Linked DNA regions of Homo sapiens: region 2 is linked to region 1. The links come from fine-mapping of genetic effects on gene expression. A gene starts in region 1. The other region holds a variant in brackets. All regions are shown on one strand. Distances are from middle to middle. Region 1 holds the start of MFSD6 (major facilitator superfamily domain containing 6). Region 2 has its middle 23 kb from the start of MFSD6.

Region 1 (15,455 bases):
AAAAATTAAAATATAATTTGTTTTTTTTAAAACCACATAACTGAGATACATTTGAAGTGCCTTGCTTACTATTAGATAGGTGCAAGGCTGGAAACAGGGAAGCCACTATGGAGACAGCTGCATTAGGTCCTGAGTTGGAGTGGTGTGTATAGGGATAGGGTAGGTGAAACATAGCAATGCTGAGAGGATACAATGGGCAGAACTTAGTGTTTGATTGAAGATGATTAAAGATTTTGGACTATCTGCTTTAAGCCATAGGGACCAAATGGATTTTTCTTAGGGGAGGAGGAACACGGTAGAAGAGATATTTTTGAAAAGTTAATCTGCGTACCACTCATAGCATATGTTGCCTGCTATTATAATTATGTTAATTATAACTGATCTATTTGTAGACATGTCCCTGTTAGTAAATCACAAGCCTCTTGATGGAAGGGACCTGATTTTATACTTCTATATCCAGGGCCTAACTCTCTGCCTCACTAAAGTAGATTTATTGCCATTTAAGTACATAAATAGTAGACAATAAACACCACATAATGTGGAACTGGATTGGGAATGAACAAGAAAAAAAAATCTTAGAGAGTACATGAAGGAAATGATATTCAAATATGTATTATTAATTTTTAAAGATTGTATTAAACCATATATAGAAAGATTCTTGATTAACCTAGTGAAAAATAGCTATGTCAAAACAATAGCCAGCCTCATACTCAGTGGCAAAGCAATAGAGATATTTGTAGTAAAGAAAGTAGTAAGAAAAGGAACAATTGTTGATCATCACCAATATTTACTATTATTTTGTCAACATAGTAAGATTTTAAATATAGATATAAATATTGGAAAGGAGACTAAAGTATCATTGTTTGTAGTTTAATATGATCACCCACCTAGAAAACTCAAGAGAATTAAGCAAAAAAGATATCAGAATAAAAGATTTAAATAAATTAGCCTTCTTTCCTTCTGTTTACATAACTCATCTTTTTGGTCTAGTGAAAGTCCCTCTTCCTTCATAAGCCAATGCTGAGGAGGGAGGGTGGGAGAGGGAGCTAAAAAGAATTCACCTCATCACTACTGTCACCATTGGATTTATCCATTTATTATCATCCATTCAGTCAACAAATAATTTATAACTCTCCTTCCATGCCCCTTCCATTTCCTCCCCGCAAGGTAATTAATGTCAAGAGTGGGGTGTTTATCCTTCCTTGCCTTTCTCTATGCTCTACAAGCATATTCCAACAGTCAGGCTCTATGATACAGTTACAATGGTATATCAGGGCTGCTGGTTGCACCCAGTGTCTGTTCTCTTCTTTCACAGTCATAGAATTTTTATCTGTGTACATGGATACTGAGTTAAAGACTAGATTTCTCAGCTTTCCTTGCAGATAGATGTGGTCATATGAGCAAGTTCTGCTACTGGAATTTAAACGAGTAATATGTACATATGTACAACTTCTGGTCATGTTCTTTTTCTTCTTCTTTTTTTTTTTTTGAGAAGGAGTTTCGCTCTTGTTGCCAAGGCTAGAGTGCAGTGGTGCGATCTCAGCTCATTGCAACCTCCACCTGCTGCGTTCAAGTGATTCTCCTGCCTCAGCCTCCCAAGTAGCTGGGATTACAGGCAATTGCACCATGCTTGGCTAATTTTTTGTATTTTTAGTAGAGACGGGTTTTCACCACGTTGGCCAGGCTGGTCTTGAACCCCTGACCTCAGGTGATCCACCCGTCTCGGCCTCCCAAAGTGCTGGGATTACAAGCATGAGCCACTGCGCCCGGCCCATATTCTTAAAAGAAAGGAAAATGCCTTCCCCTTCCCCTTTTCCCTTTTGCAATGGCTGGAATGTGCACATGAGAGTAAGAGTTGGGGCAGCCATGTTGGGTTTTGATGACAGAGCAACAAGATCAAAAGAGCATAAATCTCGAGTCCCAACACCATGGGCTCACTTATTTACCTAAACTTTTTAATTTTATGATTTTTTAAGTTCCAGGGTACATGTGCAGGATGTGCAGGTTTGTTACATATGTTTACCTAAACTTTTATATGAGGGAAAATCATACTTTTTAAAAAAATTTAAACCACTGTATGTGGGCTGTTCCAATGGACTACTGTCCATGCTAAATAATACAAATGTTGAACAACATAGTGTTTCCCCCTGTCTTTAAGGAGCTTGCAATCTAGCATAGAAGTTAAACAAATGATTACAATAGTATATGATAGATGCCATGATAGAGAAGGCACATGGTAAACGAAGCCACCGAGGGGCGATAAAGCCAGTCTATGGAGGACATAATGCTTTGTCTAGGATATGGAGGAGAGAGAGAGTGCAAACCACTTACACCTGCTTGAAACAACTCTTCTATAGTCTTCAGTGACAACATCCTCCTGAATTGCCTTCTACTTCTGACTGATCCTTCCTGGTTTTCTCTCCTATACCAACTGGTAAATGTTGGCCCTTCTCTGGGCTCTCTGAGTCTATTCTCTTCCTGAGTAATCCCCTTCAGTCCAATGACTGTAAATAGTACCTCAATACTGATGACTGCCAAATCCAGCCCTTTCTTCTGGGCTGTGGACTCAAGTTTAATTGCCTACTTCACAGCTCCACCTGCAAGGCTCACAAGCATCTCAAACTCACTGAGTCAAATGTGAATTCTTCCTTTTTTCCTTCCAGCCTGCTCCTCCCACAGTCTCCTCCCTCTCAGTAAAGGTTATCACAATCTTCCCTAGTTGCTCAAGCCAGAAACCTGTGAGTCATTCTTAACACCTCCTTTCCCTTGCCTCCCACATGCAACATATCACCAAGTATGCTCATATACTTCCCCAAACTCTCAAATCTATCTGTTTCTCTCCATCCCAGCCACTACCACTGTGGTCCATGCCACTGTTAACCTTTCTCCTTGCTACTGGTTACAGTTACTTTTTTTTTTTTTTCTTTGAGACAGGGTCTCACTCTGTCACCCAGGTTGGGGTACAGAGGTGTAATCATGGCTCACTGCTAAGGTTGGGAGATTGACCTCTCGGGCTCTGTCAATCTTCCTACCTTAGCCTCCCTAGTAGCTGGGACTATAGGCATGCCACCACACCTGGCTAATCTTTGTACTTTTTGAGAGATGAGGTTTGCCATGTTGCCCAGGTTAGTCTCAAACTCCTGGGCTCAAGTGATTCGCCCACCTTGGCCTCCCAAAGTGTTGGGATTACACGCATGAGCCACTACGCCCAACACCAAAAGAATCTTTACAAACACCTTACCATGTAATTTCTTTGCTGTCTCATAGGATTGTGCAACACCATGAGGCACCCTTCACATTGTATTGTACCTCCTAGCTGTGCAACCAGCCAACATTGCTCCTCTCCTAAAACATAGTGAGACTCCACCTGTACAAAAAAAATTAAAAATTGGCTGGGTATGGTGGTATGCACCTGTAGTCCCAGCTACCTGGGAGGCTGAGGTGTGAGGATCCCTTGAGCCCAGGAGTTCGAGGTTACAGTAAGCTATGATCACACCACTGCACTCCAGCCTGAGTGACAGAGCAAGATCCTGTCGAAAAGAAAAGAAAAGAAAACAGATTACTTTGGTGGCAAAGTGAAAAGTTGATTGGATGAGAGAACATTTTGAGGCAGAGAGACCAGAGAAATTTTGCAGGCAAAGGAGAGATAACAGAGATTAGGATAGCACAGGGATGGAGAGAAGAGGACAGGTGCTAGAGATATTTGAAAAGGTAGAATCAAGAGTTTGGCATCTGACTGGATGTCATAGACAGAGTCATGGCCCGCTGTAGATGTCCATGTCTCAATCCCAGGAGCCTGTGAATATGCTTCATGGTAAAAGGGACTTTGATGATGGGATTAAGATTCTTGAAAGGAGGAGATTACGCTAGATGATGAAGGTGAACCCAATGTAATGAGGGTCAGAGTCAGAAAAGGCAATGTGAGGATTGTGGCTGAGGTTAGAGTGGTGTGCTTTGAAGATGGAGGAAGGGTCCATGAGCCAAAGTATGTGAGCAGCCCCTAGAAGTGGAAAAGGTAAAAGAAATGGGTTATTCTCTACAGCCTACAGAAAGAATACAGCCTTGTAGTCACCTTGGTTTTAGTTCACTAAAACCCATTTTGGACTCTTGACCTCCAGAATCGTAAGATAATAAATGTGTGTTTTAATCCACAAAGTTTACGATAACTTGTTACAGCAGCAATAGGTAACTAATACACTGGGCATGGGTATAAGGGTGAAAGGAGCATTGAGAAGAAGGGCCTTGTACAACTGGGTGGATGGCTGTTTGGGACCCCAGAGTCTGGGAACCCAGAAGCAAGAGTGAATGAGGGGCCGGGTGCAGTGGCTCACACCTGTAATCCCAGTACTTTGGGAGGCTGAAGTGGGGGGATCATTTGAGGTCAGGAGTTTGAGACCAGCTTGGCCAACACGGTGAGACCCCATCTCTACTAAAAATACAAAAATTAGCCAGACATGGTGGCACATGCCTGTAATCCCAGCTATTCAGGAGGCTGAGGTAGGAGAATCACTTGAACCCGGGAGGCAGAGGTTGCAGTGAGCTGAGATCACGCCACTGCAATCCGGCCTGGGCGACAGAGTGAGACTCCATCTTAAAAAAAAAAAACGAGTAGGGGAAGAACAGAAGGTAAAGAAACATTGACGTGGCACTTAGTGAGGTTGGGGTGCCTGTGACACATCCCACTGGACAACTGGCCATAAGGATCTGGCCCTCAGGAGAAAAGCTGACCCCGAGAGAGGGCTTTTGGAGCACCCTCAAATATTCTGTGATTGAAGCCAAGGAGTGAGAGAATTCGCAGAAACAAACAGAATCAGAAGAAAGGAAAGCCTAGAACAAAACCCAAGGAAAACTAAAACTCAAGTGGAGCAAAGGGGAGTGGCCAGAGAGGAAGAGGAAAACCCAAGACTTGTGGGTCACAGAAGGCAGAGGAGGGGAGAGTTTCAAGGAGGAAAATCCAACACTTACGGAGCACCAAAAGAAGAGAAGGGAAGAGTTTCAAGGAGGGGACCAGTGTCTCGTGTTCCTGACAGGAGAAAGAAATGCCTGGAGAAAGAAATGATTGAATATCTACGTCAATATTGAAAGTGGATTTAGCATGAGGCTACTATAGTTTAAGCTTCAGAGACCCTTCATAAGCTCAGGAAGGGGCCCTAGAAACTTCGTATTTGTAATTGTTTTATTCTTCCTAAAGAGGGACTCAAAATTCAGAAACTTCAGGGCCTATCAAATTCTTACCAGTATGATTTCACGGTTAAGAGCTTAAAGCCTGGAGACAAAAGAAGCCTGCTTTCCCTTTCGCTGTTTAGTAACTTTGGATGGGTCACATTAACTTTCAGCCTCGGCTTTCCTCAGTTGTAAAATGGGAATAACGTTTCCTACACCTATAGGGTTATAAGGCTCAAAGAGTACCTACACAGTGCCCCGTACATAATCGATGTTTATAAGCGTTAGCTACCATTGTCACTCTTGTCGTTGTTGCCGTTAGCTACCATTGTCACTCTTGTCGTTGTTGCCAGAACAAGACAATAAACTCCTTAAGAACAGGATGTGGCATCCCCCAAAGCCCATCACAGGCACACAGACATACTTGCCAAGTGAATACTCCACTCTCCCCCAACTCTCTGCGTGTTTAACTAGAAATACAACTTTAATTATATTCTTAGTGCGACACACACGGTTGGCTTTTCAGCAAGATGCCAGTAGCAGCTTCCTGAAAAAGGGTGCCTTCGTCTCAGTGTTCCCCCTTCTTGGTGAGCCCCGAAACTCACAGATCGTTTGTCTCCCGCACCCCGCCGGCTCCTCCCTCCCGGGTCAACCTGGGACAGACGCGGAGATAACGCACTGACAGCATTAGCATTGTGTGTGCCACTTAAAAGGCGCTCAAGGAATAAGGGATGTTAGTACATTTTCCCCCACATTTCCTGGCCCGCACTCATTGCCTGGGGGCTCAGCGGAAGTCGCTTGGGGGTGCGGGGGGGTGGAGGGTGCGGTAGGGATGGAGCCTCGCCCAGTGCTTTCGCCTCCTCAGCGTGCTCCCCGGGCCCGGCTGGGTTCAGGTGTCCCTCCGGGCCGCCGGGGCGGGCTGGAGGCCGGGAGCGGGCAGTCGACGCATCCGCCGCCGCCGCAGGAGGCGGAGCGCTGCACCTGGCGGCCGGTCCTCAGCGCCCGGCCCTGAAACGGGTCCAGCCGGTAGTGACCGGCGGCGGCGACTGTGAGGCCGGGGCCGGGGAGGAGGAGGAGCCGCAGCGGGAGAGAAGGTCGCGCCGGCGGGAGCGCTGGGCCCTCCGCCTCCGTCCTCCGTGGCCCCACCCGGTCCGCATCCCTCGCCTCGCCTCGCCGCGCCCCGCCCAGCCCGTCGCAGCCCCGGAGGAGCGCGCGAGCAGCCCGGGATGGTGCGCGCTGCCCCGACAGCCGCCGCCCCGGCGCCCCGAGCCGCCGCCCCGTGCTCCGGGGACAGGGCTCCCCGCGCCCCGCGCAGCTGAGCGCTGCCGCCGCCGCAGCAGGTGAGTCGGGCCCGGCTTGCGGAGAAGGGGCTCGCAGACCCGCCCTGGCCTCCCCCGCCCCGCACGGGCCCAGCCGGAGGGCGGGTAGGCACCTCAGCCGCGCACACCTGCTGCCGGGAAAGGGGCTTCGGGGCCGGGGCTCGGAGCCCAGCGTGCGCCGCTGTCTCCGCTCGGGCCTCGCTCGCCCGCCGCTCCCTCCCTCCCTCCCTCCCCCGGCTTCCGTGTCGGGTGTCATCTTTGTGGGGTGCTGGGGGAGGCTGCCGCCTGCGCCCCCAGCGCGCCCCGTGCTGGCAGCACTTCCGCAAACGTAACTGGAGTCGGGAAAACAAAGGCGCTGCCCAGGGAGCCCTCGCCGGGCGCCCACAGCTGCTGCCGCGGGTGGGGACGGAGGGTGAGCGCCGATGCCCGGGTCCTCCTCCGCCCGGGCCGACCCGCGCCCTCGCCATAAACATCCCTGGGAAAAAGGAGGAGGTGAGAACCTCCACACAGCCCCAGTGACAAGGACGCGGCCACTTGTGTGGCAGGAGGAGGAAATTGACAACGTCTGCCCTCCCAGGTTAATAAATACGGAAAAAAAAATACCTCTGCTCTGCCAGCCACCATCCTAGCAGACATCCCCCACCTCGTGCTTTACTTCCACTTGGTCTAACATGTCTCTGGAGCCCTTTTGAGATACTACTGGGGGTTGCTAGTCTTTCTGGGTCATATTTATTGCCCATAGAGCAATTTTCCTGCAAATTTAGGTAAGATGGTGGAAAAATACAAACGCAACTTTCCCCCTCGTTAATCCCATCCCCACATGGACAGACAGGTGGGTTAATTACCTTTATGCATTCGCAACCACGGACGTTTCTTTTCATCCCAAAAAGATTGAATAAGCACCTCACAGAACTACTGGAACATATAATACCTTGCTTATTAGTGTGCAAAAGACTTAAAGAGTTGGGGTTCTAATCCCAACTGGTATTTAAATAGATGTGTGTGCTTGGGCATGTCACATCTTCCTGAGCCCCAGTTTTCTCACATGGAAAAGAGGATGGTTGGATATTATAGTGGCCAAAATTTCCCCTAATCCTTCTAGAAGTCCATGATTTTCTAGAAATCTAACCTCTTAAGTATAGATGAATGTGAAGGGTGGGTGGACATACAGTTGACTAAAATATGTAATAAAAGGAGATGTGTACTTGGTAGGTCCTTTCCCCAAGATGTGGGCACTAGCCAGCTAAAAGTGTATGCATCTGTTTTAGCCTTGTTAAGTAAAAGGATAGGATCCTCCTCTTTGGGAAGCTTGGCTTTTGACACGTCAAGCTGCTAGCAGAGGTGCAGGATATGGTCAGCTGTTTAGTGATAGTCAGATGGCTTGTATTTATCACGAGGTGTAAGTAAAATTTAGGATTGCTTAGGGGAAGGATGGGACATTGTTAATGAGCCCAGTGCAGGATGCTCTGGGGAAACAGGAGGAGAGAACATCACTTCAATAATGCATTAAAGCTACTAAGTAGTTGTGTGTCCTTCATGTTTACAGCAGTTTATTTCTAAGGCACTTTCCATCTCTATACAAATAAATATAAAAGCGTGAAGGCAAATAAAACACAAAGACAAAAAGCAGAGTTCACAGGTATTTGGTGGTGTGAGTATTGGATCACCAATTCCATCATATATAGTGTCTGGACTATTAACAGTATTAAGGCATTTTTTTGGGTACTTATTATGTTCAAGACACCATTGTAAACATTTAGTATCTCAATCTCTGTAAGATAAATCTTTCCCCTAGTTCTGTGCATGACAAAAAGGAAGCTCAGAAGGGTTAAGCAACTTACACAAACCACATAATCAGTAAGAGGTAGAGTTAAATTTGACCTCATGTTTCTGGCTCCAAAGCCCAGGAAATTTCCACATGGTGTCCCTCCCTAATCAGAACCTATTAAGTCTCTCCACCTACGCAGATGTCTTCCTTAGCTTCGTGCCTTTGAAAATTAACTTGATTTCAATGTACATGTATTACTTATGTTAACATTTAGCCATGTAGGATAATTTATATATTTATTACGTATGTATATTAATGTGTGTATGTTTACCCTTTTGTCCTCACCAGTTGTAGATTGAAGGCAGTATGAAGCTGACAGGTTTCTTTGTTTTACTTCCTTTGACAGCAAATCTTAATTTGGCAATCTCATTATAGGGAAAGGAAGAAATGCAAAAAATGTGTGTCTGCTAGCTATTTTGCACATTGGCTGAAAAATCAAGATGCTGTATATTAAATGAAAAAAATGGCTGGGCAAGGTGGCTCATGCCTGTAATCCCAGCACTTTGGGAGGCCGAGGCAGGTGGATCACGAAGTCAGGAGTTCAAGACCAGCCTGGCCAAGATGGTGAAATCCCACCTGTAATAAAAATACAAAAATTAGCTGAGCGTGGTGGCGGGCGCCTGGAATCCCAGCTACTCAGGGGGCTGAGGTAGAGAATTGCTTGAATCCGGGAGGTGGAGGTTGCAGTGAGCCGAGATCGCGCCACTGCACTCCAGCCTGGGCAACAGAGCGAGACTCTATCTCAAAAAAAAGAAAAAAAAAAACTAGCTTCAGAAGAAATTTATATACATTTGTTTAAACCTGCATACAGGCACACATACGCCTTTTTGTCCCCAAACTGTTGACAGTAGTTTTTTTTTTTTTTTTTCAGACAGAGTCTCGCTCTGTCACCAGGCTGGAGTGCAGTGGCTCGATCTCGGCCTACTGCAACCTCTGCCTCCTGGGTTCAAACTATTCTCCTGCCTCAGCCTCCCGAGTAGCTGGGATTACAGGCACATGCCACCAGGCTCAGCTAATTTTTATTTTTTTAGTAGAGACGGGGTTTCATCATGTTGGCCAGGATGGTCTCCATCTCCTGACCTCATGATTCCCCTGCCTAGGCCTCCCAAAGTGCTGGGATTACAGGCATGAGCCACTGCGCCCAGCCGACAGTGGCTATCTTCAGGAAGTGAGACAAGATGGAGAAAAGAGGATGTTTTTGCTTTTTACCTTATAAAGTTATGTTTGGGCTTAAAATTTTGTTTTTGGAACAAGCATGTGTTCTCTTATTATATAAACTAAAAAGGAAAACAAAAGAAGACTAGAATTAATTGATTTTATAACAATCCAAAGTAAGATAAAATTGAATGTGCCTAAACTCTAATGTTAGGGAAGTGAAATGAGACTCAGGAGATCAAAGTGAAAGGTGGCATACTGAGAATTGGGGGGCAAAGGGTAAAGAGTCTCAGGTGACTGGCTTTTACTTTTTCTAATAGTAACTGTAGCATATTCTACAACTCCTCAGTTTTCCTCCTCAATAAGAATGCTTTGGAGCATACACAATTTATCTGCTTGATTAGGGGTGATAAGAATTTCTTTCTTCCTGGTCTTGCTAGTGGTGGCTGTCTTTGGAAGCATGATTGTTCTGTACAGAACAATCTGGTAGAAGGTAGGAGTTGGAGAAACCAATTTACCTGCTGTGTCATCTCATGAAATTATGGCATTCTGGATGACTTTAGGTATAATTATTTTTAGTAACAATTTAGGAGAAGCAAGTTATCATAAAGTTAAACTAATCTGATGCATATGTACTTGTTAAATACAGTCCCATAGTTCTATCCAATTCTATGTAAAATTAACTAAAACCACTGCTTAGAATCCTTAAAAATTAATACATTTCCAGACTTAGAAATCCAGAGCCATAATACATTCAGACTTTTCAGAATCAAGAAAACACATGCTTAAACTTGGTTAATTATCATTGTGGTAGTAGGTAATCTTGAGAAAGAGGGAATTGTAAAAGTATTTTACAGAAGAGATATTCTCACAATTTTAGGTATTATCCAACATTTCATTTTGGGTTCTAATTATGTTTTAGGCAGAAGGAAATCTCCATCTTTTAATTTAGGAAACTTTGTTCAATAGGTTATCTTTAAAGGCAGAAATCAAGTGCAAAGTCCTACCCTACTACAAGGCCAGTTTGGGTAAAATTTCTTCCTCAAACTCAACTAACATGGCATTTCCTTGGGCATAGCATTTTTGATTCCTGGGAAAAGCAAACAAACACATCTGATGTCAATTCTGTGTGGGGCAATGAAAACACCTTAATGCCTCCACCAAGAACATTTCCTTTGAGTTTATAATTCCTCCATGTTTAATTATCCAACATTAGCTGTCTGTTCCCATTTACTCTACTGGCATTTTGGGGGTGAGAGGGGCTTGTGTCAGCCTGATTTGTTTTCCTAAATTCTGAATGATACGTTATCCAGTACTTAGCCCCACTGCTGGATTCAGTAACATTTGCTTTGTAGCTGTTTTTGATTGCCCACATTTGGATGATATTTATTTACTGTTTTTGCAAAATGGCATTGTCTCAAGTTGGCTGGGCAACTTTTGGAATCTACCAGTCATTTGTTCAGACAAGTGATGTTTGGTGCAGGGGCCAAAACAGAAAAGCCAACCAAATAATAAATAATTACAAACGTGGAACACCTAAACCTTGAGCCTATATGTTAATATGTGTCTGCTATAGTTACTGGTTGCTATGTTATGGCTTTAAAAAGAGCACACCCTCCCAAACCCCCACCTCTACCTCAGCACCAACAAAAACTACATCCCAATGTTGTATGTATTCAAAGTAGCCTCTCCCTGCCTTGATCCATTATGATGTAAATCTAGCTGAGCCACGTGTTGATGATTATGTTGAAGAGATGTGAGTGAGAGTTCTGTATTACCTTGTGACCTGGTGGTCCTGCTGCATTTTAGGATGGGAGGGGCGGGGTAGAATGGGGGAGAATAGGGCAAAGATGGGAAGAAATTCAGACCCTTAAAAAACCATGTTCAAGAGATGTGGAAAAAAATTGAATTAAGGGGGGCAGAGATGTCTTTCTTTGACATTTGTTGTGGGGCATGTTTTAGAATGGGAGACCAATTCAGGAAACATTTGGCAAGTACAAAACAGGAAAGGCCAGCTCTGAATGACTCTGAGGAAATGTTTGGAAGCATTTTGATCTGAGACCAAGAGTGGGATGGGGGAAAGACAGGGAAAGACAGGGACACTATGAATCAGCAGTGGGCAGAGTGAGCTCTGGTGTGTGGCTTTGAGGAGGATAAAAAGGAGGAACTGGTGCTGCCTGAACAAGCCCGATGTGTGGGTTAACCGTGCCAAAGGAAAGTGAGTGGCGAGCCTGGACTGGTAGTTAGCAGTCTGTGTTGGTTATGTAGAGAGACCTTGTTCCACAGGCAGGTGCACTCCACTCTGCACGGGGCCTGCTCTCTCTGAGCTCCAATAAACCAATGTACCATGAGCCCTGCTATACTGTGGGGTGAAGAGGAGACATGGCAGTCAGGGCCCAGGATTCCAGGAGAAACTGAGCACTGGAGCAGTGGCAGGAGTGGGTCCCTGTGAGTCACGCTGGGAATTCTTAACTGTTCAGGGCACTTTTAGGGACAAAGTTAAGGTAGAACATACTTGGCCTCAAGGTACTTGGCTCAAGGTAGAGCAAAGGAGGAAGGCACCACACCAAACACATAAAGCAGAATCATACAAAGTGACATGCATGCTGCCTATGACTTTTAAGAAGTACTGTGTTCCTGGGGCCTGTCTGGGGGGTTGGGTGGCAGGGGGAGGGAGAGCATCAGGATAAATAACTAATGCATGTGGGGCTTAATACCTAGATGATGGGTTGGTAGGTGCTGCAAACCACCATGGCACACGTTTGCCTATGTAACAAACCCACATGTCCTGCACATGTGTCCTGGAACATAAAATAAAGAAGCGCTGTGTTCTTGATTAACGTGCTCCAATCCAGCAAAGGCAAGCTTCTTTAGCTATTATGGAGTGCCTTTCTTAATTCTATTTCAAAATCATGCCTGTGCAATTGTGTTTAACTAATGAACAAATATGCCCCAATTCACATTTATAAGGGAGTTTAAATAAAAGACTTTATTATGATTCTTTTGAATGAGTAAACATGACACATTTCAATTTTATTTTCTGTGTAATGAGGCTCCCTGTAAAAGGTGTGCATATCTTTTAAGAGTGTCTCAAAGTCCTTGTGACAGTCCCTTTCAATTCCGTATACTGGGAAGCACAAGGCATTAGATGAATGATCAGACCTCAATTTAATAACTCTATAATTTTTCAGGAACTCCGGGAACAAGGACATCCTAATTGTCACTCAAATGTTTTATATTTAAAATAATTCCTTTTTAAATATGTATTTTTAAAGTGATAAATAATGATTTTTTAAAAATCCAGCCAAGTATAAGAAAAAAATTAAATAAGTCCTAATTTTACTACTCAGAGATAATCCCTGATAACACTTTGGTGTCATTTTTATCGAGTCTTTTTCTAAAATACATTTTATTTGAGCTACATAGATTTACAAATATAAACTGTACTATATCGAGAGGTTTGTGTCCTGCTCTTTCATTTAACATGATGCATTTTACCATGTAGTTAAGTTCTATTTTCCCATGATATGGATATAAGATTTTATTTTTCTCTATAGCTTATTTACCTATTTTCACCATAACTTATTTAACTGTCCTTATTATTGATCACTTACTTTGTTTCAGTTGTGATTGTTGTGAAAAGTGTTGCAATAAAAATCTTTACATTTAAGTCTTTGCTTTTCAGAAAGTTTATGTTTTTACTCTCAGTGAATGACAATGCCTGTCAATTCTCATACTCACCAGCATTGAATATTTCCATTTTAAAAATTATTGGTATGGTATGTATGTTAAAGTATCTATCTTTTTTATTTTTATTTATTTACAGACAGGATCTCTCTCAGTTACCCAGGCCGGAGTGCAGTGGCGTGATCCTAGCTCACTGCAGCCTTGAACCCCTGGGCTCAAGTGATTCTCCTGCCTTGGCCTCCTGAATAGCTAGAACTACAGGTATGAACCACCATGCCTGACTCATTAAAAAAAAATTGTAGACATGGGATCTTGCTTTGTTGCCCATGCTGGTCTTAAACTCCTGGCTTCAAGTGATCCTCCCGCCTCTGTCTCCCAAAGTGCTGGGATTACGGATGTGAGCCACTGTGCTCAGCCACTTTTTTATTTTATGGGCTAAGTAATAAACCTTTTTCTGAAACTAATTATATCATTAGAATTGATAGCTTATGGTAATTCTCAAGTTATCAGAACCCTAACAGCAAAATAAAACAATTTTAGATTACATATATGGGAAGGTACTAAGGATATAAATTATTCTTTTAGACTATAGCACATTTAGGGGATGTAAGTAAAAATAACTGATGATAGTCCAGGGCTATAGGAAAATGTATTATAAACCTTGAGATCTATATTCTGGTCTCAATTGTAAACTCATAAAAGGTCTGAGAAAGAAGCACCCATACATTTCTGTTTAAACTGCCTTGTCTCGTGTATAGATTGTGCTTTATTTAACCCTCTTAACTTCCTCAGTGTCTAATAGTGTTAGAATAGCTCTGTAATGTGAACTGTTACTTTTTCCTCCCGCTGGGCTTGTTCTAAGACAGGAAGCTTATTTGAAAGGTAGAAGGAAATGAAGTTCTGGGGCCTGCTTCAAATTTATATTATAAATTATGCTATATTGGCACAATATTTAATCAGGAGTCTAAAACTAATAAGTAGGAATCTGCTTCATGATGGCTGATAAGGTCTGAGGAACCTAAATTATAAATTTTTAATTGACATTTGATTATTTTCTTCCACAAAGTGAAAGTGAAAATCTAGTTGGTCTTTATTACTAAAGTCATCTTTATGGTTATAAGCTATTTCCTCCAACCCTTAAGAGATCAAAATAATTTGTTCCTTTTTCACCCTGTTAGCAAGTTGAAAGGAAATGTTAGAGAGGATTTCAGGTCCTTTCTTTCAGATTTATGATGTTACAAATATAAGTAAAATGTTTCTACAGAATATTTTATTTTAAGTGAATAGTTATTTCTTTCCTGGAGATAATGAATTATCATTCCAGTCCATATTACAATAGTGTGTTCTCCAGTGAACCAGTGCCTCACAGGCCCCCATCAGGCTGTAGACATGAAAACAGACATGAACATAAATTCATGAGCACAGATGGATGAAATACTAGCCTAGTTCAAGGGTGGTGCCAAATAATTCTGGGAAAAGTGCTTTTGGCATAATTGCAAAATAAGACCCAGAGTTTTAATGAAATATCTGGAATAAAACTACAACTACCAGCAACACCAAATGTTCATATGTTGCTTTTAGATTAACAGAATGCTTTCTCATACTTTATTTCATTTAAGCTCTAGAATCCTTCTGGGAGTTAATTGACTTAAGTTTGTATGGAAAAGGAGGCTTAAAGAGGCACTGATTTATCAAAGCCAGGGGGATGCAACTGGGACTTCTTTTGACTCTACTTCCTAAAATGAATTTTTGATCACATTAAACTTTAATAAAAATTTATATGTTTATTGTCATCAGGTGCTTGTCAAAATAAACAGTATTGAGAGCTTACAGGGGTAAAGGGCAATATGTTATGTTCTAGATTCCTCCCTCGAGGGGTATACAGTCTTGTTGGGCAAACGAGATATCTGTAAAAAGATAGCAATAAAATTACCTATAAATCCTACAGTAGATGTGAGAACAATCTCTAGAAGTAGAGGAAGGAGTGAGGAAAATGTTTCAAGTGTATTCTATTTCCAGATGTTATGAAAGGTCCCATTAGATATAGTGAATTCATAAAGTACTGTTTGTTCTGAAATGATACCATCACAGGACTTCAGTACTGGATCATTAGCGGTAAGATCAGCACACCAAAATAAAAGTTCAAATGTTGGGAAATCCTTAGCAAGGTCACAGTAGCAAAACCCTGCCAATCTATTCATCCTTTAAGATTGGCTCGAGGCCCCACACCACAGACCCTCTGTGTACATCACCTGTGCTTGCTCCTGTTTGAACATTTAGCATAAGGTGTTGTGATTGTGTGT
Region 2 (15,455 bases), 24 kb before region 1:
TTCTTGGGCTCAAGTGATTCTTCCATCTTGGTCTCCCAAAATGCTGGGATTACAGGCATAAACTACCACTCCCAGCCAGGTTTTTCACTTAAAAAAATTGTGGTAACATATACATAACCTAAAATGTACCATTTTAACCCTAAGTGTACAGTTTAGTAACATTAAGTGCATTCACATTCTTGTACAACCAGTGACATCATTCATCTCCAGAACTTCTTCATCTGCCGAACTCCATACCGATTACATAACTCCCTATTTCCCCCATCCCCCCACCAGGCACTGGCAACCGCCATTCTACTTTCTGTCTCTATGAATTTGACTATTCTAGGTACCTCAGATAAATGGAATCATACATTTGTAGGGTTTTGTTTTGTTTTGTTTTGTTTTGTTTGTTTGTTTGTTTGTTTGTTTGAGACGGAGTCTCGCTCTGTCGCCCAGGCTGGAGCGCAGTGACGCGATCTTGGCTCACTGCAAGCTCCGCCTCCCGGGTTCACGCCATTCTCCTGTCTCAGCCTCCGGAGTAGCTGGGACTACAGGCGCTGCCACCACGCCCGGCTAATTTTTTGTATTTTTAGTAGAGACGGGGTTTCACCTGTGTTAGCCAGGATGGTCTCCATCTCCTGACCTCGTGATCCGCCCGCCTCTGCCTCCTAGAGTGTTGGGATTACAGGCGTGAGCCACCGCGCCCAGCCTTTAATACATTTTCTACACTTCCTTTTGCCTGTTACTCCGCCAGCCATCTGCTTCTACTTAGCATCATCTCTGACTCAGCCCAACTGTTCCTAAGGACTGGGTCCTACACTCAGTAGAGTCTGAAGATCATTGTACTGGGTATCAGTTGCCAATCTTTTGCTGTGGCTCCTGACCCCTTTTGTAACAGGCTCCTGGCATGAGATTGTGAAGTGCCAAGGCATGAGTATTTTCGTAAAGGGTTTTCTGCTGTGTTAAAATGATTGGAGTATGAAAAACAAACTATTGAACCTCAATGAACACAGGTCCCTAAGGGAGCCCTGTGTTCGGAGGAAGTCCAGCAAGAATAAGTCTGCAGTAATACTCTGTATCAGTAACCAATAGGCTTATCTAGGAGAGGCAGAAATGACAAAATAACAATGGCCTAAGTAAGATAGAAGTGATTTCTCCCTCGCTTAAGGGAAATGGAGTGGTAAGTGCGTCCAGAGCTGAAAGGCGGCTCTATCCTAAAGTCCTCAGGAACTCACGCTCCTTCCATCTCACTGCTCTCCCATCTCCAGACTGTGACAACAGGATCTGCATTTTGGGCAGCAAGATAGAGGGAAAGACAAAGAACAAGAAAAGGGTGAATGATTTTTCATTCCTTTGGCCAGAACCTTGTCACATGAGTACACGCGGCTACAAGGGAAGCTTCCATTCTCAGAAGCCATGTACGCAGCCAAAAACTAGGAGTTTTAGCACCCAGGAAACAGGCATTTGAGGACAACTAGCAATCTCTATCACTCACCACAACTGAGCTGTCCCAGCTTTTACCCTCTGATTACATCCCTTGGACTTATCACTGAGGTCTCATGACATTCATAGCCCGATAATTTAAACTCTTACCCACATTGACTTATCTACTTATGATGCATTTATCCACTTCATCTCCCAAAGAATTAAAAGTGCCCTAAATATGTGCATTCATCAAGATGATAAGGAAAAGGAACTTCCTAGCAACAAAAGCATAATGGAAATAAAAGAGAAATGCAAGTACAGTTATTCCTCTCATGAGACCTATGAGAAATCGCTGAGAATCTTGACCCTGGCAACTCGCCTGGACGCCTGCTGACCCCTCCTCTCCAACCACACCTTCTGCCTCTGTGTGTTGAGTGCTCAGAATGCAGACGAGCTTATGTCACATCTCTACTGTGTACATACACTCTGCTGAGCCATTCCACTTAAGGAGTCTGTACACTCAGCGCAGGCCACAAACTGGGCATGACTCCTGGCCTCATATTCACAGCCCGGAGTATGCTGTTATTTTCATCAGCCTTTAAACACCCCTACTGTACCAAAAACAGCACTGCCCATCCCATGGCAGAAAAGATAAAATACGGAGGCACACATTTGCTGTTTGCCCAAATGGGAAAGAAACAAACAAACATTTTCTACATTTTTCTTCCTATTTCCAAGTTTTCTTCTTTATGTTTTTCTTTAAGTGCTAAATGCAAAAAGAGAGCATAAACAGTAAGTTGTTACCTTTACCATTCATGCTGAGCAGCTCTAATTGTACCTGGGTTGGCAGGTAGGTTGAAAAACATGTTTCTAAAGCAAACTTAAGTAACTGCAAATGTCCTCCTAAAATGCCAGGGAACTCAAAGCCTGGGTATGCATGCAAATAGACCTTTGAAACTGGTCTGATGGAGCGGCTGTTTTGATCATGGACACCTTTAAAAAAGGTTTTTTGTTTGTTTGTTTGTTTGTTTTTTTCAGATGGAGTTTCGCTCTTGTTGCCCAGGCTGGAGTGCAATGCCATGATCTTGGCTCACTGCAACCTCTGCCTCCTGGGTTCAAGTGATTCTCCTGACTCAGCCTCCAGAGTAGCTGGGATTACAGGCATGCGCCACCACACTTGGCTAATTTTTGTATTTTTAGTAGAGACAGGGTTTCACCATGTTGGTCAGGCTGGTCTTGAACTTCTGATCTCAGGTGATCCACCCGCCTCAGCCTCCCAAAGTGTTGGGATTACAGGCATGGGCCAACGCGCCCAGCCAAAACAGGTTTTATGTATTTATTATTTCTATCTGATACTCAAGGCTAGCCCAAGTTCTGGCTCTAACAAAATGCCTATAATTCTAAATATGATTTTTCTTTTCTAGCCTGTATTTTCAAAGTTCCTCATCTTAAAGGAGCCTTGAACATGTAGGATTAAGAGCTTTCTCCCTTTACCCATTTGCAAAAAGCAAACCAGTCCTGGGCTGGCTATATGGTCTTATGACCTGTGCCGGCTCACAAAGCTCCACCCTCAAAAATGTGCCATGCTTGGTTCTGCTATTGCCATGTTGAAGTTCTTAAAAATTTTACCTTCAAATTCATAAGTTTTGTAAGTGAATGGAGGGGCAATGGAGCATGTGCATGAATGGAGGTGTTACGTAGCTCTGAAAATATTCCAAACACTTTCTGCGTTAAGTGACAGATGTTTTGCTGTGATAAGAACATGGAGCATAGTCCCCTTCCCTGTCAGAATGTTACATCACACTTTTCCAGACCACATATGTGAGTTATTGGCCTCAACGACTAGACTCCAAAACACATATAAACCCAAGATTTTGGCAGACAGATTGAGAGCTCAGGCTGCAACAGGGCTAATCTCTGTCAGCCTTTGAGCTAGCTTTCAAAGCCTCGCCAGCCCACACAGCACTGGCACCACTTGCTAGTGTCCAGGGATCTTACAAGTTGTCTCGGATCTCCCTCACATCCACAGAGGCCTACTTCCATTCTAAGCAACTAAACTGTAATCACTGGACTTGAAATGAAATTATAACTAATTATGTGGATAATGTACCTCATCTGCGGAGTATAATCTCTGCGAGATTTGTTCTTGTTATTTCCCCCCTCTTTGAGCATTAAAAAAAAGAATCTCTTTGTATGGCAATAAACCATGTGATTCCTGAAATCATACTTTGATCATCTTCTTATTGTAGCCATACCAAATAGGAGGAGAAATGTACAAAATGTGTGTGCTTCGTCCCCTTGCAGTTCTGGTCACATAGGGTTCACAGCACCTGTGAGCACAGAATTCTTGTGGACCTATGTTGTATGGGGGTTCAATGAGACTCAAAGCAAGTGCATGGTAAGTGCATTACATTGCTGATGACTGAGCAAGTGGGGGCACTGACAGTTCCCAGAACCAGAACCTGCTTCCAAAGCAAAAACAAGGCAATGGCATTCTAAGAAACAGGAAAACTAAGGAAACCTCCCATGTCCTTTCTTATTTGTGCTATTTTCCTATATTAGCCAATCACATAGGCTGAAATGATGGCACAAAAGGAAAGGTAAAGATAGGACCACACATAGTTCCTTTCCTTTTCAGTTCCTTGCCAGTAAGCTGAAGGTAGGGAGGGCTGGTAGAATGCCGGGGTATCAAGAAGTGAAATAAAAAGAGTTGAGTTAGTTTCCTGCAATGTTTTCACTGTTATGGTAAGAACAATATATATATTCATGTGTGAACTGTGAAAAATGATTTATGTAATTTTGGTGATACCACATATGAGTTAAATACTCTCCAATCTGCATTTAAAACTGGCATTGGGCTGGGCACGGTGGCTCATACCTGTAACCCCAGCACTTTGGGAGGGCGAGGCGGGTGGATCACTTGCAGTCAGGAGTTGGAGACCAGCCTGGTCAACATGGCAAAACCCATCTTTACTAAAAATACAAAATTAGCTGGGCGTGATGGTATATGCCGGTAGTCCCAGCTATTCAGAAGTTTGAAGTGGGAGGATCACTTGAGCCTGGGAGGCAGAGGTTGCAGTGAGTCAACATGGCACCACTGCACTCCAGCCTGGGCGACAGAGCAAGAAGAGAGAGAGAAAAAAAGAAAAATTGGCATTGCATGAGGTAAACATGAATATTAAAGTTCAGACTAATCATTAAAATTGTTATTTTTCTTTATCTATAATGATATCAAACAGCAACAAACAAACACAAAACAACAAAACTCCCAAAACCCAAAAACCATGTCAAGTTGAGAGAGACCATGGAAGAGAGTAAAACTCTTTTTCCTTTATGTGCCTGTAAGGATACTTTTCTCCCTACTTTTTGAACAAGGAGCCCCACATTTTCATTTTATACTAGGTCTCACAAATTATGTAGCCAGCCCCAAATAAGTCCCAGTTCTACTTCTGAATTTACTGTCTTTTGTTCTATCTAAATTTTTGTCATATTTGCTAGTGAGGCCCAAACACAGCCCACTTGCAAGCTAGGCTTGCCCCATCTGAAGGCTCTTTCCAGTTATTTGAAAGCTGAGTTAATAAGGGAACCAGGATGTGCATTAGTACATTTCTCATCTTGTAAGTAAGCAAGTACATTCAGCACATTCTAACACTTGCTGTAAACCTATCAACACTCTCCACCAGGTGTCTCTAGCAGATTTGTGCAGGTGCAGATGCAACATTAAAGGCAAATTGTGGCAAACATCTTGTCTTGGCTAACTTCTTCAATGGGTCACTTTTTAACTGCATCATGTTTTTTTGTTTTTGTTTTTGAGACAGTCTGGCTTTGTCGTCCAGGCTGGAATGCAGTGGCAGGATCCCTGCTCACTGCAATCTCTGCCTCCTGGGTTCAAGTGGTTCTCCTCTGCCTCAGCCTCCCAAGTAGCTAGGACTATAGCCAAGAGCTACCACGCCCGGCTAATTTTTTGTATTTTTAGTAGAGATTGGGTTTCACCAAGTTGACCAGGCTGGTCTGGAACTCCTGAGTTCAGGCAGTCCACCCACGTAGGCTTCCCAAAGTGCAAGGATTATAGGTGTGAGACCGCGCCCGGCATTTTTTTTTTCTTCTTTTTTTTTTTGAGACAGAGTCTCACTCTGTCACCCAGGCTGGAGTGCAGTGGTGTGATCTGGGCTCACTGCAACCTCCACCTCCCAGGTTCAAGTGATTCTCTGCCTCAGCCTCCCGAGTAGCTGGGACTACAGGCACGTGCCACCATGCCCGGCTAATTTTTTGTGTATTTTTAGTAGAGAAGAGGTTTCACCATGTTGGCCAGGATGGTCTCGATCTCTTGACCTTGTGATCTGCCTGCCTCGGCCTCCCAAAATGATGGGACTACACAGGTGTAAGCCACCACGCCCGACCCTTTTTTTTTTTTTTGAGACAAAGTCTTGGTCTGTTGCCCCCGCTAGAGTGCAGTGGTGTGATCTCTGTTGGCTCACTGCAACTGCCACCTCCCAGGTTCAAGTGATTCTCTGCCTCAGCCTCCCGAGTAGCTGGGACTACAGGCACGTGCCACCATGCCCGGCTAATTTTTTGTGTATTTTTAGTAGAGAAGAGGTTTCACCATGTTGGCCAGGATGGTCTCGATCTCTTGACCTTGTGATCTGCCTGCCTCGGCCTCCCAAAATGATGGGACTACACAGGTGTAAGCCACCACGCCCGACCCTTTTTTTTTTTTTTTTGAGACAAAGTCTTGGTCTGTTGCCCACGCTAGAGTGCAGTGGTGTGATCTCTGTTGGCTCACTGCAACTGCCACCTCCCAGGTTCAAGAGACTCTCCTGCTTCAGCCTCCCGTGTAGCTGGAATTACAGGTGCCCACCACCACATCCGGTTAATTTTTGTATTTTTAGTAGAGACGGGGTTTCACCATGTTGGCAAGGCTGGTCTCGAACTCCTGATCTCAAGTGACCCACCCACTTTGGCCTCCCAAAGTGCTGGGATTACAGGCATGAGCCACGGCGCCCAGCTTGCATCATTTTAAATAAACCATCTTCCTTAACCAATTCGTTCCCTTTATTGTGTTTTAAATTGTCATTAAATAATCCTTAAAAAACTGGAAAAATATGGAGAAGTAAAAAGGAGGAGAAAAATCCAACATTCAAGCATAGCTACTGAGAACATTTTAGCCAATGTTCCTAGAATTGTTTTTCTTCTATGAGTAAAAGAATAAAGATTCAAACCACAGAATGGCAGAAGATATTTGTAATACATATCTGATGAAGGACTTGTGTCTAGAAGAATAATTAAATCAATTCAAAAGTTTACAAGAAATAAAGAGCCAATGAACATGCTTGATAATGTACATACTTGAACAATTCTCTGTTTCATTAAGATAAATGTTTTTATTTGTGTTTTTGTTTTTTGAGATGGAGTCTTGCTCTGTCGCCCAGGCTGGAGTGCAGTGGCACAATCTTGGCTCACTGCAACCTCCGACTCCAGGGTTCAGGCGATTCTCCTGCCTCAGCCTCCCAAGTAGCTGCAATTACAGGTGACTGCCACCATGCCCAGCTAATTTTTGTATTTTTAGTAGAGACGAGGTTTCACTGTGTTGGCCAGTCTGGTCTGAAACTCTTGACCTCAGGTGATATGCCTGCCTTGGCCTTCCAAAGTGCTGGGATTACAGGCATGAGCCACTGTGCCTGGCCAAGATAAATGTTTAGAGGTAAAACTGCTAGATCAAATATGTACATTTTAAATGTGGGTACCTATTGACAAAGGGCCCTCTAGAAAAGGTACACCAATTAACCCTTCATCAGTCGGGTGTGGTGACTCATGCTTGTAATCTCAGCACTTTGGGAGGCTGAGGCAAGAGGATCACTTGAACCCAGGAGTTACCAGCCTGGACAACATAGCAGCAAAACAAAACAACCTCTCATCAACAGAGGATGAGAATGCTCGTTACTTATATCCTTGCCAACACTAGATGATATCAGTCTTTCAAAATCTAATACGTAAAAAAGGTAAATCAGGTTGTTTTAATACTCTATTGCTTTCTTTAGAACTAATCATATGCTGATGAGATTAGTTGGCCAATTGTATGTAATTAGTGAAGGCCACTGTGTTACTTGACTTGTATGATTTTATGATGCAAAGTAGAAAAAAGTTTAAATAGTTGTATTTTACAGTCAGTGAGAAACATTATAGAGAAGTGTGAACTCAATAGAAGTTTGAACTTCAAGAAGCTTTCGAAGGATTTGAGCTGTCCAGCCACACAATGAGCCACATTCTAACTGCTGTTAATCCTACAGATATTAGACACATTTAAGTAAAATCTAGATGACCTTTTTTTCTGGGATTCCAGCCGTGATATCTAGTATTCATGATGAATCAGATACCCTATATTAAATTTTTTAAGTATAAAATTATTTTTGAGACAGTGTCTTGCTCTGTCACCCAGGCTGGAGAACAGTGATGTAATCATTGTAGCCTCAAGCAATCCTCCCACCTCAGCATCCCAAGTACCTGGGACTACAGGTGCATGCCACCACACCTCACTAATTTTTAAATATTTTTTGTAGAGATGAGGTTTCGCC[G/A]TGTTGGCCAGGCGGGTCTTGAACTCCTTGGCTCAAGCAATCCGCCTGCTTCGGCCTCCCAAAGTGCTGGGATTACAGGCATGAGCTTCCACTCCCAGCTGTAAAATTCAAATATGTATACTTTTATTTTATTTTATTTTATTTTATTTTATTTTATTTTATTTTATTTTATTTTATTTTATTTTATTTTATTTTATTTTATTTTTTGAGACAGTGTCTCGCTCTGTTGCCCAGGCTGGAGTGCAGTGGCGTGACCTCGGCTCACTGCAACCTCTGCCTCCTGGGTTCAAGCGATTCTCATGCCTCAGCCTCCTGAGTAGCTGGGATTACAGGTACACATTAACATGCCTGGCTAATTTTTATATTTTGTAGTAGAGATAGTGTTTCGCCATGTTGGCCAGGCTGGTGTTGAACCCCTTACTTCAGGTGATCCACCTACCTCAGCCACCCAAAGTGCTGGGATTACAGGCGTGAGTCACTATGCCAGGCCTAATATGTATACTTAAAAATATATACATTCTTTATGCATTTTCACCTAAAGATACCATCTATTTCTGCAGCTTCAACTATGACTATATATTTGATCCCCAAATTTATAAAAGGAAGAAAGGAAGGAAGGCATAAATTGGAATAGGAAAAAGCCCTAATCTCTCTTTTCAACTCCAAACCCACATTTCCAACTGCCCACTGGCCATTTCCACCTCCATGTCTTGCCAGTCCATGGAACACAACAGGTCCCAAAGTAATCATCTTCCCTCTCCCCCTCACCCTGGCTCCCAGTTAGACTCCAGTATTATGGTTTTCTGATCATAGATCTCCCCTTTATATTCTTCCCTGAGGAAAAATTCTGAAGTTCTGTTCTCATGTAGGGGCTTTCTCCCTGCTCTCTCCCCATTTCCTGACTTTCAACATTTTTTCTTCATTTCAACTTCCACATCACCACTTTGGCAAGACCTCTTCTTGCCTCTGACCCATGCTAGTACACTGCTACAGTCTGAATGTATGCGTCCCTCCAAAATTCATATGTTGGAACTTAAACCCCAAAGTGACAATATTAAGAGGCAGGGTTTTTAAGAGGTTTTAAGGAGTTATGATAGCTCTGCCCTCATGAGTGGGATTAGTGCCCTCAGAAAAGGAGTCAAGGAGCCAGGTGCGGTGGCTCATGCCTGTAATCCCAGCACTTTCGGAGGCCAAAGCGGGTGGATCATTTGAGGTCAGGAGTTCGAGACTAGCTTGGCCAACCTGGTGAGACCCTGTCTCTATTAAAATACAAAAATTAGCCAGGTGTGGTGGCACGCACCTGTAATCCCAGCTATTCGGGAGGCTGAGGTAGGAGAATCGCTTGAACCCGGGAGGCAGAGGTTGCAGTGAGCCACGATCTCACCACTGCACTCCAGCCTAGGTGACACAGTGAGATTCCATCTCAAAAAAAAAAAGTCAAGGGCTCAAGGAAACCAGGTAGGCCCTTTTTGCCTTTTTGCCCTTCTATCTTCCTCCATGTGAGGATGCAGCAACAAAGCACCATCTTGGAAACAGAGCACCACCCTCACCAGACACCAAATCTACTGGTGCCTTGATCTTGAAATTCTCAGCTTCCAAAACTGTGAGAAATAAATTTTCTTTTTTGCAAATTACCTGGTGTTAGGTATTTTGTTATAGCAGCAGAAACATACTAAGACACACACACCCACTGCCAGCAGGGCTTTGAGCATCGGCAGTCGTTTAAGGAAGCCTACATTAGGGGTTCTGCTGCCGTGGATGATATATGGCTGTAGGTGGGGCACAACTCTCTGTGTTACAGTCTCTTCATTAGTAAGATAGTCACAAGAGGCCCTTCCAATGCCAACATTGTAGAACTGATTCTTAGGCCCTTGTTTCCCTAATAACTCTGGTGACTTTCTGCTAGCTCCTAGGCTTTAGCTTGGCATTCAAGGCCTTCTTCCTGCTCGACCCCATCCCCCACAAAAAAGGATTTGAAAGAATAACAGGTAGGCAGTGAAACTGCAGGCAGAGCACCAAGCTCCTGCTCTACATTCCCCTTTTCTCTGAGATCTGAAGCCCTTCGATGTTGGCTGCTCAAAGTCCCTAAACTCCAATTTCTGTCTCACCAGGCCAGTGAGGCAGCTGCAAGCAGGAGTTCTCTTTCTCTGTCTCTAAGTCCCTCAATATGAATTTGCAAATGTCTTGGGCTAGGTAAAGATTTTTTAAGCAAAATACTGAGCACTAATCATAATGAAGAAACAGGAAATAACCTTGATGATCATCGATAGAAGAATGGTTGAAATAAAATGTCTAAATATAATGCTATATTATACAGCCAATAAGAAAGAGGAGTTAGATCTAGATGCATTGGGATGAAAAGATATACATGGTATACTGTGTTGCTAAGTGAAAAAAGCAATTTATAGAAGAGTGATCCAGTTTGTAAATTTAAAAAATATTTTTAAAAATCTAAGTATATACAACAAACTACTCACAGTAATTATGCCAAAGGGAGGGCCTACAAAAGTATCTTCATTTTCTCTATTATGGTTGTTGTTTGTTTGCAATAAGCAAGAATTACTTTTATAACTAGGGAAAACAGTGATATAAAAGTTGATACAACATTTCATTTAGAAAAAAGTAACATTTGGGCTACAAGTTATATATATTCTCTGGAATATAAACTTGATGAGAGTAGAGACCTTGTCTGTTTTATATATGGCTGTGTTCCCAGCACTTAGAACAGTGTAAATCACAAAGTAGATACTTGGTAAATATTAGTTGAATTAATAATTGAGTGAATGAATATGACCAGAATTATTTGACGTGAATGTTAAGACACTGGAGAGAGTTTCCTATATCTAGTTATCTTCAAAGGAGTATTACATGTGGTATTATGCAAGAATATTTTAAGGGGGATTACTTGAATACTGATATGTACTTTCCCCCAAATAAACATTCCTGGAATATGCTTTATTTTTATTTTTATTTATTTATTTTTTTGAGATGGAGTCTCACCCTGTTGCCCAGGCTGGAGTGCAGTGGCGTGATCTCAGCTCACTGCAACCTCCGCCTCCCTAGTTCAAGCAATTCTCCTGCCTCAGCCTCCCGAGTAGCTGGGATTACAGGCATGCACCACCATGCCTGGCTAATTTTTTTTTTGTATTTTTAGTAGAGACGGGGTTTCACCATATTGGCCAGGCTGGTCTCGAACTCCTGACCTTGTGATCCACCTGCCTCAGCCTCCCAAAGTGCTGGAATTACAGGCATGAGCCACCACTCCCGGCCTGGAATATGCTTTAAACATATTTATTTATCTATTTATTTCTCTGCTGAAACTGCAATTTCCTTAATATCATGGCGTATTCTTTCTGTGCTCTGTATCACCCCATTTCAATAAGGACTGTACCAGAACTTTGGGTGCCTAATAATTAACTGAATAATTGCTCAATTATTGATATTTCATTACTTATTTATTATCAATGATAAAAAATGATGCCTTGGGGCCAGGTACAGTGGCTCATGCCTGTAATCCCAGCATTTTGGGAAGCCAGGCGGGAAGAATGCTTGATTGAGCCCAGGAGTTCAAGACCAGTCTGGGCAACATAGGGAGTCCCCGTCTCTACAAAAAATAAAAATAAAAAAATTAGCCAGGCATGGTGGCATGCAGCTGCGGTTGCAGCACTCAGGAGGCTGAGGTAAAGAAATCACTTGAGCCTGAGAGGTCGAGGCTGTAGTTAGCAGTGGCCGTGATCATGCCATCGCACTCTAGGCTGGGTGACAGAGCAAGACCCTGTCTCAAAAAAATAAAAATAAATTTTGAAAAAAATGTGTTGGTATTTAAGGATGGAAACTTTATTTCTATTTGATTTTGGCAACATTAAACTTAGTAGAGTGTCAACTTTCAATCAAGCTGAGTGAGGATGGAATATGGTTCCTTTTACATTCTCTATGTGCCATATCATAATATTTTTAATATAGGATACACAGAAAAATGTTGCTATTAACAGTCAAATTTTCAACAATAGCAACAACACAAAACTTATGTTTACCACTCAGGGCTTTTTGCTTTGAAGGGAAACTTTATTTACTGCAAAATATTTTAAAACCAAGAAGATGAAAACACTTGATTTATACAGATTATGGAGAATAGTAAAATTTTTAGCTGAAGAGACCTTTCAGATACCAATTCCCAGCTTATTTATTTTATATTACAGCCTCTCAGACCTAGAAAAGTTGAGTAATCTGTGCACAGTGAGGGGACTCAGTGCCCTCAGACTAATGGTCTCACCATGAACAGTTGTTATATTTTTAATAATAAATGTTATTTGATTTTAAGTAATCAAAGCATTTTTAATTGTTTCAGGCTTTTATGTTGATATATATTTTAAAATATCATGCAGTAAAAACATCCAAATTCTATTTGCTATTTGTACAAGTCAGTGAGTATACAAATATCTGTTTCCTTATTGTTAAATCTGCAATTATTAAGATATTGTTTTACCTACACAGCTCCTCCTGAATTATATAAGTCTACTATCATATAGCAAAATATCTAGTTTGAAGAAGGATCATTTAAGTTTAAAGTAACTCAGTAAATTCCCAGACAACCAAATGGTAAGATGAATCAAGCCATAGCTTATGGCATATAGAACATTGTTCTATGTGATTTCCTGAATGGAAAAGAAACCAGTGTATTATGCTGAATCGATAGGAAATGGTGACACTCTGGATATCACAGCAATAGGTTCTCCAGAAAGAAATAATAATAAATACATTTTAGTTTATTGCCAATATAACACTTTGAGAGGGATACAGAAAAACTAGAAAATATCTAGAGAAAGTGACCAGATAGTGAAGATTTTCTTGTTATTCCAAATGGTGTCATTTCTCCCCATCCCACACCTACAGTGTTTGTTTTAAAATAATATTTAGGAAATACTGAATTCTATATATTAATCTTGTGCCTTGCTATGTTATAGAAATCTATTAATTTTAATAATTTTTCAGTTTGGTTCTCCTGAATGTTCTAGATATATAATCAAATAGCACAAATAATTTTGTTTCTTCCTTTCCAACATGTATAATCCATATTTTATTTTCTTTGCATTGGCTAGAAGTTCTGGAAGAATGTGGAAGATGAGTTTAAGTAGGTACAGTTTTCTGGCTCCTTAACATGCACCGATTATCCTTAGTAATGAGAGCTTGTCATGAAAAATAAACTGTAACCTTATCTAGCAAGGAAGGAAAATTTCCTAATTTGCTGTATGATATCTTGGGTCCTTTGGTAGCATTCAACATGTGGCACTCCTACTGGACAGAGGTTTTCTTTTTAGAGTCAGCATCTTGCTCTGTCACCCAGGCTGAAGTGCAATGGCACGATCACGGCTCACTGCAGCTTCAAACTCCTGGGCTCAAGCAATCCTCCCACCTCAGCCTCCCAAGTTACTGGGACTACAGGTGTCAGCCTCCTCCCCTGGCATGGGTGGAGTTGTGCTTGGCTTATAAAAAAGATATGGTCCAGTCAGTAGTGACAAGGAGAAAATGGGATGATTTTACTCAAACAAAACACGAGTCAAGCCCCCCACCAGCTGTACTGAATTACAGTTGACATACCATAAACTGCACATAAAGTATACAACTTGGTAAGTTTTACCCCTGAAACAATCACCACAATCAAGGTAAGGAACATATCTATGATGCTCCAAAATTTCCTCATGCCCCTTCGTAATTTTTCTCTCTTTCCCCTCCCTACTCTACCCTGACCTCCATTCCTGGGGAACCACTGATCTGTTTTCTGTTCCTACAGATGAGTTTGCATTTTCTAGAGTTTTATAAATGGAATTATACCGGACTCTTTTTTGGGATGTAGTGGTGTCTGGCTTTCTCCACTGATGATAACTATTTTTATATTCATCTGTGTGTGTTTGTTTATTCGTTAATGCACTCATCAGTAGCTTGTTCTTTTTATTTCTGAGTATTATACTGTATGAATATACAATTTGCTTATCCATTCACATGTTGGTGGACATTTGGCTTGTTTCTAGTTTTTGGCTATTACAAATAAAGTTGCTATGTACATTCATACATGTCTTCATGTGAACATATGCCTTCATTTCTCTTGGGGATATACCTGGGAGTGGAATAGCTGGGGTAGATTTATGATTAACTTTTCAAGAAACTGCCAAATTATTTTCCAAAGTGGTAGAATCACCAGCTTTGTCTGAGGTTCCATTTGTTCCACATTCTCTTCATCACTTGGTATGCTGCTTTTTATTTACCTATTTCTTTATTCACCTATTCTTCTTCATATGTACCGGTATCTCACTGTGGTTTTGACATGTTTCCCTAATGTAGGTTTCTTACCTTTATCACTATTGACATTTTGGACCAAACAATTCTTTGTGGGGAGGGGACACTGCCAAATGTATCTCCAGACACTGCCAAATGTATCTGGCATGTAGAGGCAAAATTGTGCCCAGTTTAAAATACTGCTCTAATGACCACTGATAATGAACAACTTTTCATGTGCTTATTTGCCATCAATATGTTTTCTTTGGTAAAGTGTCTTTTTATTGCTAAGTAGTATTCTACTGTATGAATATACAATTTGCTTATCCATTCACATGTTGATGGACATTTGACTTGTTCCCAGTTTTTGGCTATTACAAATAAAGTTGCTATGTACAATCATATACGTCTTCATGTGAATTTGAAAAAATTTTGTTCATTTTTAAACAAAAGAATAAAATTTGTTGTTTGTCTTATTACTGTTGAGTTGTGAGAGTTCTTACATATTCTACATAAAAGTCATTTGTTGGATATATGTTTAAAACTAATTTCTCCCTTTTTGTGCCTTGCCTTTTCATTTTTATAACACTGTATTTTGAAAAGCAAACATTCTTAATGCTGATGAAGTCCAATGTATTGATTATTTTCTTTTCATACTTTTGTGTTTTTATATCCTATTTAAGAAAGCTTGACAAAGGTAACAAGTTTTCCCCTGTGTTTTCTTCTGGGAATCTGATGGTTTCAGCTATTATATTTAGGTCAATAATTTTTTTGCACAATTTTTTAGATAGGGGTCTTGCTATGTTGCCCAGGCTGGTCTCAAATTACAGGGCTCAAGCAATCCTCCCAGCTCAGCCTCCCAGGTAGCTGAGATTACAGGCACATGTCACTGCTCCAGCTCTCAGTTAATTTTCATATATGGCATGAGGTAAAATTGAGCTTTACTTTTTAAATAAGAATATCCATTTGTCCCAGCACTTATGTTGAAAACATTATCTTTCTCTATTGAATTGCGTTGGTAGCTCTGTTGAAAATCAATTGACCATATATATTTGTAAGTCTGATATCTGGACTCCCTGTTCTATTCCATTGATCTCTTTGATTGTCTTTATAGTAATATTACAGTATCTTGATTACTGTAGGTTATAATAAGTTTTGAATTTGGGCAGTGTATGTCCTCCAACTTTGACCTTTTTCAAAGTT

Evidence for each region. PIP is the estimated chance that this variant, and not a neighbour inherited with it, causes the effect.
Region 2: its variant is fine-mapped to the expression of MFSD6 in whole blood (INTERVAL, PIP above 0.99).

The regions. Positions count from the first base shown.
Region 1 is chr2:190,402,001-190,417,455 of GRCh38, forward strand. MFSD6 (major facilitator superfamily domain containing 6) reads left to right here and starts at 6,355. Exons shown (of 8, transcript NM_017694.4): 1 at 6,355-6,503; 2 at 13,292-13,413. RefSeq lists an enhancer at 5,626-5,675 and a silencer at 5,936-6,975.
Region 2 is chr2:190,377,967-190,393,421 of GRCh38, forward strand. No RefSeq gene overlaps it. Among named protein-coding and RNA genes, the nearest start is that of MFSD6, 23 kb to the right of the region's middle. The variant G/A (reference allele first, on the strand shown) is at 7,980.